Linked DNA regions of Homo sapiens: region 2 is linked to region 1. Evidence: fine-mapped expression QTL. Tissue or cell type: whole blood. Region 1 holds a variant in brackets; the other region holds the start of a gene. All regions are shown on one strand. Distances are from middle to middle. Region 1 overlaps OCIAD1 (OCIA domain containing 1). Region 2 holds the start of OCIAD1 (OCIA domain containing 1).

Region 1 (2,804 bases):
CTGAGGGGTCAGTCTTTTGTGTTAAAGATACTTCATATGACTCTCTGTTCTTATTCCTTAATTCCTCATATGTAATATTTTTTCTTTTAGGACTTTCTTCAAGGTTGGGATCAGGTCCTAAAACAACAAACAGTTAATAAATGGTAATAAAAGGATTTGTATAACTCTAAAGCAACTAAATTTTACAAATGCTCCTTACAAAAGGAGCTACAATCAAAATAGAATAAAGAATCAAATTATTACCACCATTTCACAGGTACTATACTTTCACCAAGATAATCATCAAACTGAAATCTACTTCCACCCATATTTTTAAGCTTTTATTTCTAAAAATTAAAATGGACATCAAAAATTTTAAAAACTAAACCACAGCCAGAAGAAAAATATGTATCATAATATATAACAGTACAATTTAAACTCATTAAAATACCAGTGTTTTAAACTGGAGTTACTCATACTGTATACAGAATTAAAAGAGAAATATATTCTACTAGGGACAACTGAATAAAACTTGACATAGCATAGATTTTACTCAATATATAGTTAAATAGTCCTATAACCACAGACTCTATGAAAACAACTCCAGCTATTTTCAAAAATCATTTATTTTACCTTTTTACAAAATTTAAACAAAAATACTGAAAATAGGCCAGGCACAATGGCTCACAACTATAATCCCAGCACTTTGGAAGGCCGAGGCGGGCGGATCACCTGAGGTCAGGAGTTCAAGACCAGCCTGGCCAACAAGAAACCTCATCTCTACTAAAAACACAAAATTAGTTGGGCGTGGTGGCACACACCTGTAATCCTAACTACTAAGGAGGCTGAGGCAGAATCGCTTGAACCCAGGAGGCGGAGGTTGCAGTGAGCTGAGATCGCGCCATTGCACTCCAGCCTGGGCAACAAGAGCAAAACTCTGTCTCAAAAAAAAAGGAAAAAAAGTTGAAAATAATTACTTGAAAAGTATAAAACATAGCCTTTAATCAGAATATGTGTTGTTTTCATTCCAGTCTAACAGATGCAATGTTGATGCAGAAGAAAGTATCAACTGTTATTTTGGCCTGGGAACTAACATTTATTCTTTATTTCTCCCAAAGAGAGTCAAAATGTGAATATTACATATTATCATAGAGTCAAATGTAAATATAATGCAGTGGTTACTCCTAATATTGGTTGACAGGATCAAATAGTGAACATAGTTTATACAATTTATAAACAGCAAAAAAGGCCATATGAACATTAAAAAAAAAAGATGCTAACATTCAGTGAACAACTACTTAACTTACAAAGTCTTACCTACCACATACCACACCAAAAGTACTGTTTTTCAAAGATGTTTTCAATAAGACATACAAATTGGGCATATACTTTTAATATTAACTTTTTAAAAAATAATTTTTGTGATACTTATTTAGAACTCAAAGGTAGGATCCCAGTGAATAATCAGAATTTTCTAAGCAAC[A/G]TAACTATACATTAAATAATGTTTTCAACCATAAACTTTTTTTTTTTTTTTTGAGACAGAGTCTCACTCTGTTACCCAGGCTGGAGCACAGGGGCACAATCTCGACTCACTGAAACCTCCCCCTGCCAGGTTCCAGTGATTGTCCTGCCTGAGCCTCCCAAGTAGCTGGGATTATAGGCATGTGCCACTATGCCCAGCTAATTTTGCATTTTTAGTAGAGACAGGGTTTCGCCATATTGGTCAGGCTGGTCTTGAACTCTGACCTCAGGTGATCCACCCGCCTCGGCCTCCCAAAGTGCTGGGATTACAGGCATGAGCCACTGCACCCAGCCATTTTCAACCATAAACATTTATTCTGCTAAATAAATATATACTATACTTATATAAAGCAAAGAGGATTTAAATTTCTCCTAATTAGTTCTAGTATTATATGATGGTTCAAAACTACATTTTTCTTACTAAAAAAAGAATGTAAAGAAAAATATTATAACCTTATATTGGGATTAAAACACTTTGCATTTCATTAGTAATAAGTAATTACTGAACTCATTTCCCTTCACCATATATGTTATATTAAAAATTCTGAAGGAAATCGTGTGTACTTCAGGAACCTTGGGTTCTTAACCCCACTCTGCTGACAATTAGGAAATGTCCTTGGGCAAATCACTAAGCTTCTTTGAATCCTGGTTTTCTCAATTGCGAAATATGGTAGTTTGAGCAGATGATCTCTGAAGTTCCTTCCAGGTCTAATACTTTTTCTTATAAAAAATATTTTACCATTATAAAATTCTGGAACAAATAATGAAAATATACATCAGACAGAAGAAGACTGGGGAGAATTTCCCACACTATGGAGAGAACATGATTTACTATTTTGGGAAGGTTATAAAGAACTGGAAGGAATAAAAAAATGTAAAGTGGCACTGATTTAAATCTAACTGTAATAAACTCTAAGTCTCCTAACAGCTCTGAAGGAGTGCTTGCTATTTTAAAAGATTAATAACTCTCTGAATTCCTGGTAAAAGAAAGCAGAACTAAAGTAGGACTTAAACCAAAGAATAAGATGCCCTGGTAGGGGAGGATAGCATCTGGGGCAAAGCAAAAGCAGGCCACTGCTGGCCCATGTGGAGAGCAGTAAAAAAGTAGCCACTTTGATTTAGAGAAGGGGGTCAGAAGGCAGAGCAGTGGATGGATGGATGGCTGCTGTGGAAGGCATAAAATAATATTAAGACATGGCCTTGCTAAGTAGTCTGTGGGTAGATACCAAAGGGCTTTTTGTTTGTTGGCTTTTGTATGGAAAAAAACTATATAACAGAATTTCCTAATGCAAATGGTGGGGAAG
Region 2 (2,804 bases), 25 kb after region 1:
AAATATTTATTAAACACTACTATATCTTACGTACTCCACATGTAAATAGCTAGATGAAAAAGTAACAGACCTACTGATTAATTTGGAACTCACTATTCAGGTTAAGTCCCTTAATTGAAAAAGCATATGCGTTTTATAAGTTTATAATTTTTTTTACTATCAAGATATCAATAAAATAACAGACATATTTTTTCCTCCTGGAAGTGGGTTCTTTCACATCCTATGTTTTGGTCGTTTCTCGAATCTATGCCCAATGATTAGGATAATTCCCCAAAATAGAAGAGAAAAAAAATTTCAAGTCATTTCTGAGCTTCCATATTAAAAAATGAAATAATCATCAGAAACATTCAACCTCTCCCACAAAGGAGCACTCCAAAATTATGGAATAACAAAGACGACATATCCTTCTCCCTGTGAGGTAAAACTAACAGCAAATTCTGTATCTCCAAATTTCCTTCCACCCCAAGAATATAAGAAAAAAATGCATAAAATTCCAAGAATATACATTTTTTATTTGGTTCTTTTTTTAAAAACTCATATATTGGGACTCAGACCAACAGATCAAGTAACCGTATTTTACAGAACGTTTACGTGGGATCATGATTATTCTCATTTTAAAAACAATTTGCATGGAAACAGGAAATGGCATACACAATGAGGACAGCAACTGAGCCCTTCCATAATTCATTCAGTCAATAAGCCATGAAGGCCTACTACATGCCAACCCCTTAATTAGAGAAAAGAAATAAAAAAGGTCAGCTGAATTCATGGATGGATGGAGCCTGCTGAATAAACTACCTTTACCCTACAACCGTATGAGAAAAAATGAAACCCTCTTATTTCCCATAACGGCATCCTTCCTAGAAACACCAGGAAGACTGTCAGGGCTGACACGGCGCTTAAGACAATACCATTTTAAGTTCTTTACACAAAACAACGCTGGATTAAAGCCTAAGCGGCCTACAACCGCTGATTACCGCACTCCATCCTCCACCCAGTGTCCGTCTCCCACCTGCCGTTACAGACTGAGCAGCAACCCCACACGCATCCGTGACCACGAACTTCCCCAGCTCACACCCCCAGAAGCACTCCGTCGCCTCCCGCAGTCACCGGCACTCAGGAGGCCGAGACCCGAGCGCGATCTGTCCACCCTCACAGGCAGGAAAATGGCGGAAGGTGCGAAAGTCGTGGATGGCCGCAAAGGTGGTGAGGGGATACGCGGAGGGCAACAACGGGGCTGTTTGCGTCACCTCACCCACCTCCCGACGACAGCAGCAGGCGACTGCAAGGAAAACCAAGCGATCAGGGGCAGAAGGCCCGGAGGGTGGACTCGAGAGGGGGCAGGGAGGGAGAAAAGTGCAAGGTACCGCGGGGAGGGGGAGGGGTAGAACAGCCGCAAGAAGTCATCCAGACAGGGGCTCAAAATGACCGCGACCCGGAGGCACTGTATACTTACGGCAGGAAATGACGTCAGACCTCACTGCGGGTCTGAGAGCCAGCAGCCTAGGAATAGACGCATGCGTATACTCGTCCCTTTGCCCTTTCAGGCAGCTGCGGCCACGAGCCGCACTGCGACTGCGCAGGCGACAGCGGCGGACCAAGAACCCTGCCCCGCCCCTTCCCTGGATGGCGGGGAAGGGGGTTGGGAGTAGGCTTGACTTTGGGCTGTTGTGATGCACCTCTCTGGTCTTCTCGTGGCGGCTGGCGGGAACGTTCCGGAACCCTCTGTTGTCCCTCTTTTGAGAGCGACTTTATAAATTATCTCTTTTATGAGATAATTTCATTCTTTGAGCCTGTAGGCTAAGTAGTAGAAAGTAATTTTTAAGCATGCATACCTGGTTATTTGTCACACCCTCTTGATCCAAGTTTCCAACAAGTTCTACAACCTCTGGCAGGGTACCGTGATCTCTCTGAGGCTACGGTTTTTCTCACCTGAAAAGTGGAATTACATATAGGGTTGTTAGAATTAAAACAACACATCACTGTCTATTAATGAGGGGGCTCACGACTTCTACACATCAGACATGGTGCTGCCACACCCAGCCAATCAGCATTTTACTCATTTTCATACATTCCTTCCTGAAGTATTTATTAGTGCCATGTACTGCAAGTTATTAGTGACTAAACAGTGGGCAAATCCAGTCCTACTATTTGTCAACCCCTCAAAGCCTCTCAGGTTTCTCATCTCTTTCTGAGCCCCTTTGCCACTTTATCATTTAACATTTATTCTCCCGAAGACATACTTAAGGGAGACAGTCACGTGAAACGAATCCAACGCTGTGTTTCCTTCCTTGGAGTCTTTTGATAGCTCCAGTCATGCACCGAATATAAGGCCCATCATGGCCTGGTGGTGCCTGTGCCTTTTGAGCGTCACTTTCTTCTATTTCAGGGTTCACTAACAAGAAACAGCCTGGAGGTCTTTGCCCTCAGTGTTCTCTGTGCACTGTTTCCCCAGTACAACTCTACTCCCTGCTTTGTCAATTCTAACGATATTTCAAAATTCTGCTTTTACATCACCACCTTTGTGATGCCTTCCCTGAAATACACCCCAGAGAAGTAATCACTCTTCCTTCTTAGTCCTTAGCTTGTCCATACTGCTGTCACTGCAATGTACTTTTGCACTGAATAGTGATCTTTTTTACTTACGTCTGTCTCTGTTACAGAGCTCCTTTAGGACAGAGATGTTGGCTTGTAAGTCTTTATAGAACCAAATAAATCCCTGAGATAATCAGTATTAGTAACTAATACTCATTTTGTTCCTGGGACAAGCTAATTTACTTCTGGGCCCAGGGCTTGTGCAATTG

Evidence for each region.
Region 2: OCIAD1 starts here. The variant in region 1 is fine-mapped to the expression of OCIAD1 in whole blood (TOPMed, PIP above 0.99).

The regions. Positions count from the first base shown.
Region 1 is chr4:48,854,526-48,857,329 of GRCh38, reverse strand. OCIAD1 (OCIA domain containing 1) reads right to left here. Exons shown (of 9, transcript NM_017830.4): 8 at 1-117. All of the region lies in intron 1 of OCIAD1-AS1 (OCIAD1 antisense RNA 1), which reads left to right. Among named protein-coding and RNA genes, the nearest start is that of OCIAD1-AS1, 4.3 kb to the left of the region's middle. The variant A/G (reference allele first, on the strand shown) is at 1,463.
Region 2 is chr4:48,829,705-48,832,508 of GRCh38, reverse strand. OCIAD1 (OCIA domain containing 1) reads right to left here and starts at 1,421. Exons shown (of 9, transcript NM_017830.4): 1 at 1,260-1,421. RefSeq lists enhancers at 505-1,067, 1,068-1,631, 1,474-1,853.